Linked DNA regions of Homo sapiens: region 2 is linked to region 1. A link means that fine-mapping ties the variant in region 1 to the expression of a gene that starts in the linked region. Tissue or cell type: whole blood. Region 1 holds a variant in brackets; the other region holds the start of a gene. All regions are shown on one strand. Distances are from middle to middle.

What was found. PIP is the estimated chance that this variant, and not a neighbour inherited with it, causes the effect.
Region 2: it holds the start of ADGRE3, and the variant in region 1 is fine-mapped to the expression of ADGRE3 in whole blood (INTERVAL, PIP 0.96).

The regions. Positions count from the first base shown.
Region 1 is chr19:14,649,507-14,657,506 of GRCh38, forward strand. It overlaps ADGRE3 (adhesion G protein-coupled receptor E3), which reads right to left. Exons shown (of 16, transcript NM_032571.5): 6 at 5,476-5,659; 7 at 1,579-1,698. Among named protein-coding and RNA genes, the nearest start is that of ADGRE3, 21 kb to the right of the region's middle. The variant C/T (reference allele first, on the strand shown) is at 3,430.
Region 2 is chr19:14,670,743-14,678,870 of GRCh38, forward strand. ADGRE3 (adhesion G protein-coupled receptor E3) reads right to left here and starts at 4,102. Exons shown (of 16, transcript NM_032571.5): 1 at 4,004-4,102. The coding sequence starts at 4,028.

The DNA.
Region 1 (8,000 bases):
TCCATCTCTCTCTCTCCATCCCTCTTTTCATCTCTTTCTCCCCATCTCTCTCTTTCCATCTCTCTCCATCTCTTTCTCCTCATCTCTCTCTTTCGATCTCTGTCTTTCCATCTCTCTCTCCATCTCTCCCTCCCCATCTCTCTCTTTCCATCTCTCTCCATCTCTTTCTCCCCATCTCTCTCTTTCGATCTCTGTCTTTCCATCTCTCTCTCCATCTCTCCCTCCCCATCTCTCTCTTTCCATCTCTCTCCATCTCTTTCTCCCCATCTCTCTCTTTCAATCTCTGTCTTTCCATCTCTCTCTCCATCTCTCCCTCCCCATCTCTCTCTTTCCATCTCTCTCCATCTCTTTCTCCCCATCTCTCTCTTTCGATCTCTGTCTTTCCATCTCTCTCTCCATCTCTCCCTCCCCATCTCTCTCTTTCCATCTCTCTCCATCTCTTTCTCCCCATCTCTCTCTTTCAATCTCTGTCTTTCCATCTCTCTCTCCATCTCTCCCTCCCCATCTCTCTCTTTCCATCTCTCTCCCCATCCCTCTCTTCCCATCTCTCTCCCCATCTCTTGCTTTTGATCTCTCTCTCCCCATCTCTCTCTTTCCATCCCTCTCCTCATCTCTCTCTTTCCATCTCTCTCTACTCATCTCTCTCTTTCCACCTCTCTTCCTATCTCTCTCCCCCATCTCTCTCTTTGCATCTCTCTCCTCTCCATCTCTGTCCCCATCTCTCTCTTTCCATCTCTCTTCCCTTCTCTCTCTTTCCATTTCTCTCCCCATCTCTGTCTTTCCACCACTCTCCCCATCTCTCTTTTCTCATCTTTCTCTTTCCATCTCTTTCCCTATCTTTTTCCATCTCTCTTCCCTTCTCTCTTTCCATCTCTCTCCCCTTCTCTCTCTTTCCATCGCTGTCCCCATCTCTCTCTTTCCATCGCTCTCCCCATCTCTCTCTTTCCACATCTCTCTCCCCATCTAATTCCATCTTTCTCTCCCCATCTCTCTCTTCCCATCTGTCTCTCCCCATGTCTCTCTTTCCACCTCTCTCCCCATCTTTCTCTCCATCTCTCTTTACCCATCTGCCTCTCCACATCTGTTTCTCTCCATCTCTCTCATCTCTTGCTCTCTGTCTCCATCTCTCTCTCTCTCTCTCTCTCTCTCTCTCTCTCTCTCTCTCTCTCTCTCTCTCCCCTCTTCCCACACCCCCCCACACCCTACACTCTTCAGCTCTTTAGTTGTGATTCTCTGGAGAACACTGATGAATACACCCACTGTTGTTCCTGGGGATCACCTCCCAAAGAAACTTCTCACACTTCTTTCAGGGTTTGCTTCTGGGTGAACCCAAACCGGGACACAGGCAGAACAGCACTCCCCCACCATCCCAAATTGCAAAGTCCCTCCCATACTGAATAACAGAAAACCTCCATTTTGGGAAAATGTCTTTTTTTTTTTTTTAAAGGGAAAATCTCCAATATCGTAGTTTGAGGGTAAAAAGCCCATGAGGGGAGAGCCCAGTGGGCTTGTTTCCCCATGACTCACACAATGACATGGCTCTGTGTGAAGGATTCTGAATGCAGCCATCAGGCATACCTTGTGTGTCTCCCTGGATGATGTCACTGCAACGGATGTCCATTGAGTTCATTTGGACGTTCAAGTTGAATGTCTTTCTTTCTTCAGAGCAATTGTCTGTAATCGCTTGAGTTTCAATAGCTGGTAAGAAAAGCAATGGGCAGGCTTAGTGATATTGTAAGAAACTTTAAAAATATGCATAGGAACAGGACATGGTGGTGCATGCCTGTAGTCCCAACTACTCAAGAGGCTGAGGCAGAAGGATTGCTTGGGCCCAGGAATTTGAGCCCAGGCAACACAGTGAGATGCTGCCTCTAAAAAAAAAATGTTCATAGCAACATAAATGGCTCACATATACTGAATGTCTAGGATGTGTCGGGCACTGAGCTAAGAGTCTTACACATGTCACCTTATAAACCTATAACTTCATCAGGGACAACTCTATAGATGAGGAAACTGAAGTCAGAAGTTAGGTAAGACTCTAATTCCTGAAACCAAGTTCTTAACTAACAGCTCTTAGCATACACCTTTGAAGATACAGTTCTATTTCTAGGAGTTTATTCTCAGAAAACGATTGTGGATGGAGGGCAGATTTAGCTACAAGAAAGTTCATAGCAGCTTAGATGATAATGGTGGAAAATGGGGGATTATCTAGATGTTCAACAAGAGGTGATTGATTAAATAAGTGATGATATGGGCTGGGCACAGTGGCTCATGCTTGTAATCCCAGCACTTTGGGAGGCCATGGCAGGTGGATTGCTTGAGGCCAGGAGTTCAAGACCAGCCTGGCCAACATGGTGAAACCCCATCCCTACTAAAAATACAAAAATTATCTGGGCATGGTGGTGTGCACCTGTAATCTCAGCTACTTGGGAGGCTGAGGCACGAGAATAGTTTGAACCGGGGAGGCAGAGGTTGCAGTGAGCTGAGATCACGCCACTGTACTCCAGCCTGGATGATGGAGTGAGACTCTGTCTCAAAAATAAGTAAGTAAGTAAATAAATAAATAAGTGATGATATATCTCTGTGGTGGGGAACCAGGGCTTCAAATAAAAATAAAGTCACAAATGAATTGCAATCAAGAAAAACTCATGAGAAAAAAGGTAACCATGTGAGTGATGGATGTGTTAGCTAATTTGATTGTGGTGATCATTCCACAGTATATATGTATATCAAGTCATCCTATTGTACACCTTAAATATATACAATTTTCTTTATCAATTACACCTTAATAAAGCTAAAAAATGTTAAGCTCATGAAAATATGTATCTTAAAAACAGACAACCCAAGACTGGCTGTGAGATGGAAATCGTTGAATTGGGTGATGGGTGCATCAGGGATTTTATTCTCCTATTTCCTTTTGTGCATATTAAAAGGTTAAAAAAAAAAAGAAGCAAGCAACAAAACAGCACATCAAGAATGACACTATTTTATGGCTGGGTGCAGTGGCTCATGCCTGAATTCCCAGCACTTTTGCAGGCTGAGGCCAGTTGATTGCTTGAGGTCAGGAGTTCAAGACCAGCCTGGCCAACATGGTGAAATCCCATTCTACTAATACACAAAAATTAGCTGGTCATGGTGGCAGGCACCTTTAATCCCAGCTACTAGGAAGGCTGAGGCAGGAGAATTGCTTGAACCCAGGAGGCAGAGGTTGCAGTGACCTAGATCATGCCACTGCATTCCAGCCTGGGCAATAGAATGAGACTCCATCTCAAAAAAAAAAAAAGAAAAAAAAAAAAAGAATGACATTAATGACATTCTAGAAACTACTACTGGTTTGTCTAATATTGACTCTCAGTTTTTGAAAAGTTTACAAGTATTTACTCTAATTATGTATTAATGTTTTTGGCCTACTGTTTCATTCATTTAGTA[C/T]GTTTTAATGAATAGAAATTCTTGAGCTCAGTGTAAGTGAATTTATTGTTATTATTATTATTTTTGAGATGGAGTCTTGCTCTTTTGCCCAGGCTGGAGTGCAGTGGCTTGCTCTCAGCTAACTGCAACCTCTGTCCCCCGGGTTCAAGCGATTCTCCTTCCTCAGCCTCACAAGTAGCTGGGATTACAGGCATGCACCACCACGCCTGGCTAATTTTTTTTAGTAGAAACAGGGTTTCACCATGTTGGCCAGGCTGATCTCGAACTCCTGACCTCAAGTGATCCGCCTGCCTTAGCCTCCAAAAGTGCTAGGATTACAGGATGAGCCACCTCATCCTGCCCACAATGTTAATTTCATCATCCATTATATTATCGCTTGTTACTCTTTGTCATTTTTATCAAACCTCAATTTGACTTGTTTTTATATTATTTAATATTTTCTACATTAAACTATGTGTTTCCTGTAAAAAAGAATGACACTATTTTGACAATATTTCATAATATTAAAGAGTGGAAAGATAGAATAATCATAATTATAGCAATTACTACCGTAGTTTTTCTTCTTTCTTAAAAGTTTGAGTCGTTTAGCTTCTGAGGGATCCTAGTCCTAGGTGCATTACATGCACTTTCATTATCTCTATTAAAATTTTTTTTTGAGACAGGCTCTCACTCTGTTGTCCAGGCTGGAGTGCAGTGGTGCAATCTCAGCTCACTGCAGCCTCGAACTCCTGGGCTCAAGCGATCCTCCCACCTCAGCCTCCTAAGTAGCTGGGACCTCATTTGCACACCACCATGTCCAGCTAATATTATCCTCATTTTATTGACAGGAGAATGAAGCCCAATGAGGTGAGGGCACTGGTCTCAGATCAAACAGTTAGGACGTGGCAAAATCAGGAGAGATGAGATTTACTTGCAATCTGGAAAATGGTTTAATTTTGAACCAAAGTATCCAGATTCCAGTTTTCCAAGAAGAATAGGCACTGACTTTTTCAAAGCCTGCTGTGTGTGTGTTTTTTTTTTTTTTTTTTTTAATTTAAGATGGAGTCTTGCTCTGTCACCCAGGCTGGAGTGCAGTGATGTGATCTCGGCTCACTGCAACCTCTGCCTCCCCAGTTCAAGTGATTCTCCCACCTCAGCCTCTGGAGTAGCTGGGATTACAGTCATGAGCTACCACGCCCCGCTAATTTCTGTATTTTTAGTAAAGATTAAGTTTCACCATGTTGCCCAGGCTGATCTCAAACTACTGGCCTCAAGTGATCCACCCACCTTGGCCTCCCAAAGTGCTGGGATTATAGGTGTAAGCCACCATGCCCAGCCCAAAACCTGTTTTTTTTTTTTTTTTAATGAGACAGGTTCTTGTTCTGTCATCCAGGTTGGAGTGGCAATGGCATGATCATAGTTCACTGCACCCTCAAACTCCTGGACTCAAGCCATCCTCTCCCTCAGCCTCCCAAGTAGCTGAGACCACAGGTACAAGCCACTGCACCTGGCAAATTTTAAATTTTTTTTAAAGAGATGGGGGTCTTGCTATGTTGCCCAGGCCAGTCTTGAGCTCCTGGGCTGAATTAACCCTCCCGCCTCAGCCTCCCAAAGTGCTGGGAATACAGTCGTGAGCCATCATGCCTGGTCCTCAAACTACATTTAAGTGAAAATTCCAGACCTGGGATTGGAAACTATTGGCAATCTTCTGAATAAACAACTTTATTGAGGTATAATTGATGTCTAACCAACTGCACATATTAAAGTGTACAATCTGGTGAGTTTTGTTGGGTGCACACACCTCTGAAATCAACACCACAATCAAGGCAGGAAGATTTCCATCACCCCTAATAGTTTCCCCAGATTTTCTCATGCCTCTGCCACCCCTCCCTCCTGCCCCTCCCTGTCACTCTAGATAAGTTTGCGTTTTCTAGAATTTATATAAATTTTTGTAATTTACATAAAGGGACTCATGTGGTGTATTCAATTTTTTTTTTCTAATTGCCTAACCCAGATCCCAGCTGCTAACCAGTCCCCAGGGTGTATCAGTCCTCATTATTGTCTTACCTACACTATCGTTTTGGATTTTCAGGACTTTTTGTTCTGGATCTTTCAAGGCAGTTTCTAGAACTTTCGATTCCACATCCCGGAGAATAGTGGTAGCTGTGGATGAGATTTCTTGTCTCCCTTCTGTTCTCCATAAAGTCTGATTGGTGAGAAGTGACTCAAATTTGTCCACAATCTTTTGCAGCTTTGAAGACATAAAGAATTTTCATTTTTTAAAAATGTAATCTGGTAAGTCCCATATCCAAAAGAACAGTAGAAAGCATGAGAAAGCAGGCTCTGGAGCTGGAGGAACCACGTTCAAATCCTGGCACTTCATCATGTCCCAGCTTTGTGACCTTGGGCAAGTCACTCAATCACTCTGTGCCCCACGACAGGAAAAGGAACTCAAAGGGTTTTTCTGGAGGATTAAATGAGTTAACAGATGCTCTTCTTTTAGGACAGTGTCTGTATCTGGTAAAAGCTATGTAAGGGTGAGTCACTATTATTATTTTTGAGACAGAGTATTGCTCTGTCGCCCAGGCTAGAGTGCAGTGGTGGGATCTTGGCTCACTGCAACCTCCAGCTCCTGGGTTCAAGTGATTCTCATGCTTCAGTCTCCTGAGTAGCTGGGATTACAGGTGCACACCGCCATGCTTGCTTAATTTTTTTAATTTTTTTTTTTGTATAGACAGGGTCTTGCTATGTTGCCCAGGCTGGTCTGGAACTCCTGGGCTCAAACGATTCTCCTGCCTTGGCCTTCCAAAGTGATGGGATTATAGGAGTGAGCCACCGTGCCTGATTGGGTTAGTTATTATTAACGTTTTTTGCCAACAAGGTAGTGATAAGTTTGTTAGAAATAGACCAGTGGTTCTCAACGGGGGGGTGATTCTGCTACTCCCTCCACAGGGCACATGTGGCGATGGCTGGAGACATTTTCGGTTGTCACTGTCGCAACAAGGGAGTGGTTGCCACTATTGAAGCAGCGTCACTGTCTGGGGTAAATACCCAGAGTTTGTCATCTTGCGCCAAGATGAAGGACATGGACACACACGAGGAGTGAGTTTAGGAGTGGAGGTTTAATAGGCAAAAGAAAAAGAAAAGAGGGCAGGGTGCGGTGGCTCATGCCTGTAATCCCAGAACTTTGGAAGGCCGAGGGGGGTGGATCATCTGAGGTCAGGAGTTCAAGACCAGTCTGACCAACATGGTGAAACCCCATCTCTACTGAAAATACAAAATTAGCCGGGCATGGTGGCGCGTGCCTGTAATCCCAGCTAGTTGGGATGCTGAGGCAGGAGAATCGCTTGAACCTGGAAGGCAGAGGAGGCAGATGTTGTAGTGAGCCGAGATCACATCACTGCACTCCAGCCTGGGTGACAGAGTGAGACTCCATCTCAAAAAAAAAAAAAAAAGAAAAGAAAAAAAAAAAAGAAAGTAGAACAGCTCTCTCCCTTGCGAGAGAGAGGGATGCCCGAAAGAAAGCAAAATCCTGCCCACCGACTAGATTTTATATTCAGGCACTAGATTTTATAGTCAGGCTGAGGAGGCGGTGTCTGAATTATGTAGGGCCCACAGATTGGTTGGGCCAGGTGCGACATTTACTTACTGCTCGGGGAAGGCTGGTTGCCCTACCCACTTGGCCAGTACCATCTTGTCTGCTCCTTACTGTACACGTGACTGGCAAAGAGAAGGGAAGATGGAGCTGCCATTTTGATCATGTCTAGTCCCAGGCAGCCTTTTCCTATTGGCACAGCTGCTGGCATTGACCCATAAGCTTCCAGCTTGCTTGTCTATGTCCGCAGCTTGATTTTACAGGCTGCTCTTTGTTAGAAAAGAAAATTTGGGGCTGCTCTTCATTAAAAGGAAAACCTCACTGAGGACTTCCGTACCCTCACCATCTGCCTAAGTAATTTCTTCTTAACTCCTATATCATTGTGTATTTATTTATTTATTTTTGAGATGGAGTCTTACTCTGTTGCCCAGGCTGGAGTGCAGTGACGTGATCTCAGCTCACTGCAACCTCTGCCTCCTGGGTTCAAGTGATTCTCCTGCTTCAGCCTCCTGAGTAGCTGGGATTACAGGCATGCGCCCCCATGCCCGGCTAATTTTTGTGTTTTTTGTAGACATGGGGGTTTCATCATGTTGGCCAGGCTGGTCTTGAACTTCTGACCTCGGGTGATCCACCCACCTCCCAAAGTGCTGGGATTACAGGCATTAGCCGCCATGCCCGGCCTGATTACTTGATTCTTTATTTGTTCATTACTTCAGTGATCATTCCTTGAACTCCTAATTTGGGGTTGGTCTTATTCCCTTCCTCAAAAAGCTCACAGTCTAGGGATTGATTACATGATGTAATCACATATTTATATAAATGCCGTCAGTTGGCCGGAGACAATAATGGATACCATTGGATACTTGGATGTCTTTTGCAGCAGTGCAGCAGGCCTTAATATACTCTCTCTTGGCCTGTCTTTCTTGGTCTGGGATAGATTCCTGTCTTTAGATGGCAACACACACACGCTCATACACACACACTCACACACTGTCAT
Region 2 (8,128 bases), 21 kb after region 1:
ATTAAGAAATGGAGGCACAGAGAAGGTAAGTAACTTGCTCCATTCACTGGGGCTAGTCAGTGGCAGAGCTGAGGTTAAACACGGGTTCTGGGTTCTAGCTGATAACCCATTACACCACATAGCCTCTCCTTCAGAAATCCCACAGGGCACTACCTGCATGGAAGTGCTGTTCAGATTGTAGACACTGTAGGTTGGCATGTTTATTGTGACAGTGACTTGTCCTTTTTTCCCCCGGCAGATGCCACTCACCAGATCTGACTGGAGCCTCAAAGTCCCGTAGAGAGTGGTATGTGACTTGGTCATTTAGGGCAGTGCAGACCAATTGTAGGATTTTGGAGAAGAGGCCCTGGGGGCTAACTGTGTGACTCTTCAGGAGAGGTAATGGCAGCAATCTAAATCCTTCTGGATCTCTCTCTTGAGTTTCCAATTGCTGCTATCACAAATTACCATGACTGTAGTGGCTTAAAACAACACTGATTTATTATTCTCTTACAGGTCTGGAAGTCAGAAGTCTTAAATCAGCCTCTATAGGCTAAAATCAAGAATGTTAGTAGGGCTGGTTTCTTTTGGAAGCTCTAGGGGAGAATCTGTCTCCTTGCCTTTTCCAGCTTCTAGAAGCTGCCTGCATTTCTTGGCTCACGGACCCTTCCTCCTTCTTTAAATCCAGCAGCACAGCATCTTCTCGTCTTCCTGATCTTCCACCTCCCTCTTAAGAGGACCTTTGTGATTATTATATTAGGCCCCCTGGAAAATTCAGGGTACTACCCCCATATTAAGATTCTTATCTTAATCAACATCTGCAAAGTTTCTTTTACCATGTAAGGTAACATATTAACAGGTTCCAGGGATTAGGATGTGGATGTCTCTGGGGGGACTGTTATTTTTCTTCCTGTAATTCTCACCCTTCCCCCAAGAAGATGCCAGGTCTGGTTTGTGATCAGTTACTTATGCAATTGCATTCACAGAACATTTTGAATATTCTCAGCTGGGCTTAATGTCAGGCTGATGTTTCCTTTAAAGTCCCCTTCCTTCTACATTTTTTATTTTTATTTTTATTTTTTTGAGGCAGGTTCTTTTTCTGTTGCCCCGGTTGGAGTGCAGTGGTGCAATCATACCTCACTGTAGCCTTGAACTCCTGGGCTACATGCATGAGATACCACTTGTGGCCAATTAAAAAAAATTTTTTTGGTAGAGATTGGGTCTTGCTGTGTTGACCGAGCTGGTCTTGAACTGTTGGCCTCAAGTGATCCTCCTTCTGTGGCCTCCCAAAGTGTTGGCATTATATGCGTGAGGCACTTTCTTCTTTTGTATATACATGAATGTGTAGCAGCCACACAAACCTTACGCCTGCCCAAATGATGACTAGCTCACAGGGCCAACTGATAAACCATATGGCTGAATAGTGTTACCCTGTTCCTAAAACTCAGGCAGTCTGGGGGACCATCATGTTTCCTTAAGACTAGTCTTTAGTCTAACCAGCAAGCCTGTACTCACTAATTTGGGCAAAGGTCTTAAGTTAGGGTTTCTGAAGAGTCATCGGTGTGTCAGAATCCCAGAGTTCTAAGAAACTTTAGAAATCATCCACTGACTTATTTTGTAGATGAGGAAACAGGTCCCCTGGGGTTAAGTGGCTGGCACACTAGTTGGGCAAATTTGGGTAAGTTGTTTAACTTCTCTAAGCTTCCTTATGTGAAATAGGGTGGCAGTATGACCTACTTTGTGGGGTTTTGGAGATGACCTAAATGAGGGACTGTGTAGAGCACAATGTCAGGCAGGAAGTCCTCCACTGATACTGGCTGCCTCTGTCACCATCTGACTTCCTCCTTTCCCATTTGGATGCTTTTTCTTTCTCTCTTTTTGCCTAATTGCTCTAGCTTGCTGCCTATATTATCATTTGAGCTCTGTTGCTCAGGCTGGAGTGCAGTGATGCAATCACAGCTCATTGTAACCTTGAACTCCTGAGCTCAAGCGATCCTCCCACCTCAGCCTCCAGGGTAGCTGGGACTGCAGGTGTGTGCCACCATGACTGGCTAATTTTTTTTTTTAATGTTTCTTGGAGACAGAGTCTTGCTATGTTGCTCAGTCTGGTCTTGAACTCCTGGCTCAAGCAATCTTCCCGCCTTGCCTTCCAAAGCTTTGGGATTATAGGTATGAGCCTCCATGCCCAACCCTGGAATCCTAATTCTTGACCCAATGCTCATATCATCACCCTTGCCTGTACCATCCAGTGATATGGGCTAAAAGTTCCTGGATAACCAAAATTCACTAATAATCCACCTCAGAAGTGTGGAGGACTCTGTCTCCAGTTGCAAAAAGGCAGGCTTCTTTCACATTTGATTCCACATATACTGAAACACCTCTTATATATAAGATGCTATGCTAGGGGTTGCAAAGGTGAGGGAGACATGGCATTAGGATTTAAGTGTAGCTTGTATTATTTTGATAGAATTTACAGCCTATCAGCTGCCTCTGCAGCAGAATAGCTGTGAGGCTTTGAGAAATTCACAGAACCTCTCTATGATGCAATTTCTTATCTGTAATGTGCAGATGCTATGTGACAATGTAAAGCAATTTAAGCCTAATGCCAGGCTAAAGTAGCTGCTTAATAAATGTAAGCTTTGATTGATATTGGGACTATCAATATTGTTAATTCATCTGGAGCTGGAAAGATGGATGGGATTTCATCCGTACAGAGATGGTGGTTGAAGCCATGGAATTAGGAGATTCCCATAGGGAGAGGGAGTAGAAAAACAGAAGATCCCAGTAAGGATCCTGTGGGAGGAGCATTATAGCAAAGATCTGGAGACAGATGGTTTGGATTCAAATCCCAGCTCTCTTATTTACTAGCTGTGTGATGTTGGACAAATAACATAACCTGTGCCCCAGTTTTCTTATCTGTAAGATGAGGATACCCCATGAGCATACTGATGATGCAACAGATTAATACATGTAAGGTGCATAGTGAGTTTTCAAAAATGTTGGTTATCATTATTTTCTTTGTATAAATTTATGGGATACAAGTGTAATTTTGTTACACGCATAGATTTCATAGTGGTGAAGTCAGGGCTTTTAGAGTATCCACCATCCAAATGATGTACATTGTAACCATTAGGTAACTTCTTATTTTCCACTGTCCTTCTACTCCCTCAGCCTTCCCAGTCTTCATCGTCTATCATTCTACTCTCTATGTCCATGTGTCCACATTATTTAGCTCCCACTGATAAACAAGAACATGAGGCATTTGTCTTTTGGTGTTTGAGTTATTTCACTTAATATAATGACCTCTAAAATTAATAATAAAATTATCATTTATTTTCTTGTCACAGGAAAATGATAAAGGAGGGAGAAGAAAGAATAGCAAGAGAAAAAGGAAAAAAGTCAGGGCAGGGCTAGTTTGCAGAAGTTATCAAGAAGGAGAAGACATCAATTAGAAAACAAAACTTGCCAAGAGGAAGATGAACAACGTATTAGAGACCGGGTGCGGTGGCTCATGCCTGTAATCCTAGCACTTTGGCAGGCTGAGGCGGGTGGATCACCTGAGGTCAGGAGTTCGAGACCAGCCAGGGCAACATGGTGAAACCCCATCTCTACTAAAAATACAAAAATTAGCCAGGTGTGGTGATGTGTGCCTGTAATCCCAGCTACTCAGGAGGCTGAGGCAGGAGAATCACTTGAACCCGGGAGGCAGAGGTTTCAGTGAGTCAAGATTGCGCCACTGCACTCCAACCTGGGTGACAGAGTGAGATTCTGTCTCAAAAAACAAAACAAAACAAACAAACAAAACAAACAAAAAACCAAGCTACTAGATTGGATAGGAACATTTTAGGGATATTCGAGAGCATACTTTGAATAGGGTAGTCAGGAAGGAAACCACACTCCAAAGGGAAAAGGTGAGAGTGTTCAGAGCAGAAGAAAGAGGAGGAGAAAATAACCAATTGTTGAACCAAGTGGTCCCTGACTGGGGGATAGGTTAAGCCTCAGTCATTGTTACAGTCACACATACCTGGAAGAAGCAATGGTCCCTGCATTTCTGTGGTACGGGTATCCCACGCCAGCCAGCCCTGGAAGCTCTCTACTGTGCCGTAAGCCAACCACCTTTCCTAGCTCAAGAAATCCCATGAGAATTGAAGTATGTATCTTAGGTCAGCTGACTCATGAAATTGCTATCAGAAAAGCAAACTGCTTCCCCTCTTTCGCCATCAGACTCATGGTTCTGCTTTTCGTTTATTTGCTGTACCTTTTCTGCCTAGCTATTGTTGATCACCTTTGGGATGATTGAGTTGGTAAACCCTAACGAGGAAATGCCCTGAAAGTTACATCACATTGTCTGAGGATTAGGAAGTGCCTTTGGGGCCAAAATAAATCTTAAATAAGCCTGTGGCTTTGAGGTGAGTAAACCAGATTTTAGGGTGTCTGTGTTGGTATCTGAAGTTTCCAGAGGAGTCATTTTAACATATCTTTCTCTTCCCCCAGTAGATGATACTTACTGGTTATGATTGCTGAGCCATAAGAAGTTAAGAGTCCCAAAGTCTCATAGAAGGTAATACATTATTTGGTTATTTGGACCAACCCTAACCAGTCACAGGACTTGGGAGAAAAAGTCTGTAAATCTACCCTTCCTCCAGCAAATATTTATTTATTTATTTATGTGGGTCTTGCTCTGTTACCCAGGCTGGAGTGCCGTGGCACAATCATAGCTCACTGCAACCTCAAACTCCTGGGCTCCAGCGATCCTCCCACCTCAGTCCTCTGAATCGTTAGGACTACAGGTGCATGCCACCACGCCTGGCTAATTTTTTTTAGTTTTTATTTTTTTTTTTGAAGAGAGACAGGGCCTCGCTTTGTAGCCCAGGCTTGTCTTGAATTTCTGGGCTCAAGCAATCCTTCTGCCTCAGTCTCCCAGTGTTGAGATTACCGGTGTGAGCCACTGCACCCGGCTCCCCTGCTTAAAACTCTTCTGAAGCTCTTCATTAGACTTAAAACACCAGACTTCCTACTGAAGCAGTGTTGTTGTCTGGGGTTCATCCTCTCATGCCAAGTAAATCAAGGATGCGGATGCACAAGAAGTGAATTTAAGGCCGAGCACTGTGGCTCACCCTTGTAATCCCAGCACTTTGGGAGGCTGAGACGGGCGGATCACCTGAGGTCAGGAGTTCAAGACCAGCCAAGCCAACATGGTGAAACCCTGTCTGTACTAAAAATACAAAAATTAGCTGGGCATGGTGGCGCATGCCTGTAATCCCAGCTACTCGGAAGGCTGAAGCGGGAGAATTGTTTGAACCCGGGAGGCAGAGGTTGCCGTGAGCGAAGATTGCGCCAGTTCCTTCCAGCCTGGGTGACAGAGTGAGACTTCATCTAAAAAAAAAAAAAAAAAAGTGAGTTTCAGAGCAGAAGTTTAACAGGCAAGAGAAGAGAAAAAAGAGAAAAGCTCTATCCTGCAGAGAGAGAGGGGCTCCCAAGTGAGTCTTCTGGTCTCGTGGTGAAATACATGGGGTTTTATAGCCGAGCTTGAGGAGGAGCTGTCTGATTTACACAGGAACCGAGAGATTGGTCGGACTGGGTGTGCTGTTTGCATAGCACGCAAAGAAGCTGGCCGCCCCATCCTCATCTTTTACTATGCAGATGGGGTCTCTACCTGGCTGGCACTATGTTGCCTGCTTTTTTACTGCACACGTGGTGATAAAGAAAAGGGAACATGGTGAAACCCCGTCTCTACTAAAAATACAAAAAATTAGCCGGGCGCGGTGGCGGGCGCCTGTAGTCCCAGCTACTCGGGAGGCTGAGGCAGGAGAATGGCGTGAACCCGGAAGGCGGGGCTTGCAGTGACCCGAGATAGCGCCACTGCAGTCTGGCCTGGGCGAAAGAGCGAGACTCTGTCTCAAAAAAAAAAAAAAAAAAAAAAAAGGGAAGAGGGAACCTCCATGTTGAACATGCCTGCCCCCAGGAAGCCTTTTCCTATTGGCACAGCCGCTGCATTTACCTTTGCAAACTTCCAGCTTGCTTATTTATGTTTGTAGCTCGATTTTGCAGACTGCTCTTTGTCGTGGTGGTGATGATGATGATGGTGATAATAACGGTTGTGGTGGTGATGGTGGTAATCATGGTAGTGGCAGGAGTGATGGTGGAGCTATAGGTGGTGGTGGTGACGATGAAGGAAGGGATGATGGTGATGATGACGATGGTTGCGATGATGGTGAAGATGATGAAAGTGACGGTGATGGTAGTAGCGATGGTGATGGTTACATTATGGTGATATTTTCAGAGATGGTGGTGATGATGGTGATTGAAGGTGACAGCTGCAGTGAAGGTGATTGTTGTGGTGATGGTGACGAAGGCTGTGATAGCAGTGGTGATAATGATGGGGTGAAAATAGCAAAGGTGGTGGTTATATTGGTAGTGGAGGTAAAGACGAAAAGAAATGATTTTGGGGCTGCTTTTTGTTAACAGGGAAGCCTTACTGAGGACTCTCTTACCCTCACCAGTTGCCTGAATAATATCTTTTTAGCTCTTGTATCACTAGATACAACAGGAACAAAAAGGAACAAACAAACAGGCAAACAAACAAAAAAACCACTGCAAGAAAGTAGCCCTGGTGGCAACTGAAGACACGGTCATGGATTAAATCATTTAGGGAGAGATTATAGAGTGGAAAAAGAACCCTGAGTAATTCATTTAAAAACTCAGGCAATGTTAATTTGTGCAAAGGCAATAGAAAAAAATTAAAAAAAATAAAGGAATGGAGAGGCAGCTAATAGAGGAGACAGGACGAGAATGGCCAGAGAGATGAGGGGTGGGGGTGGGAAATGAATGGAGTATGGTATTATGGAGGTAAAGGAAAGAGATCACACTGAATTAAGACTGAAAGACACCCACAGGAGAGAGCTGCAAGGGGGTTGTTTGTATTCTTAGCATGAACAATTACAGTAGTGAAGGTGGTGGTGGTGGTGATGATGCTGATGCTGATGATAGCGGTTGTGGTGGTGGTTGTTATATATAAAGTTTCGGTGACGTGAAAGAAATAGCACTTGAATATAAAATTTTCCTTTTAATTCTCAGCAAGGCAAGTTACTTCAATATAGAAGGGTGTGCCCTTACAGATGGAACAGTGGCGAGCGCACATTCGGACATGGGAGGGGAAGGGGTTCTTATCCCTGACTCAGGTGGCCCCTGCTGCTGTGTCGTTCCCCTATTGGCTAGGATTAGACCGCGCAGGCTAAACTAATGCCGATTGGCTAATTTAAAGAGAATGACGGGGTGAGTGCTTTGGCGGGAGTCAGGGCAGAGCAGGTAGCAGGTAATCGGAATGAGTTAGGGTGGAGCAGGTGATCAGAATGAGTCAGGGTGGAGTAGGTAATCGAAAAAGCTGCTTTACGAGGAAGTTAAGTTTAAAAGTAGAAGGCAAAGAATTGAACATACTGACATATTAATTCTTTGAAAATAAATTTAGAACTCATATCTAACATGGTGATGATGATGATGATAATAACGGTTGTGGTGGTGATGATGATGGTGATAGAATGGTTGCAGTGGTGATGGTGGTCATCATGGTAGTGGCAGTAGCGATGGTGGTGGTAGAGGTCGTGGTGGTGATGACGGAAGTGATGATGGTGGTGATGATGATGGTTGCGATGGGGCTGAAGGTGACGAAAGTGACGACGGTGGTAGTAGCAATGGTGGTGGTAACATCACAGTGATGTTTTCAGAGATGGTGGTGATGATGGTGATTGATGGTGACAGTTGTAGTGAAGGTGACTGTTGTGATGGTGATGAAGGCTGTGATAGCAGTGGTGATGAAGATGGGAGTGAAAATAGTGGCGGTGGTGGTTATGTTGATAGTGGAGGTAAAGATGGTGGTGATGCCAATAATGGTAGGGAAGGTGGTGGAGGTTGTTGTTATAATGGTTCAAGCCAGAATTATGTGGATTGAGGAAAAAGCGCGAGGGGAAGAAGTGGAGACAGCAAGTGAAGTCACCTGTAAAGACAGTTGGAGAAAAAAGTATGAGCAAAGCAAGATGATCAAGAGACCTCCCTGGGTGTTTGGAGCATGGTGGAATTAGCTGGCTATTGGGATTGTCAAGGCCATGAACGTACGTAGTAGGTTTGTTGGGCTCTCAACATCCTACTGTCC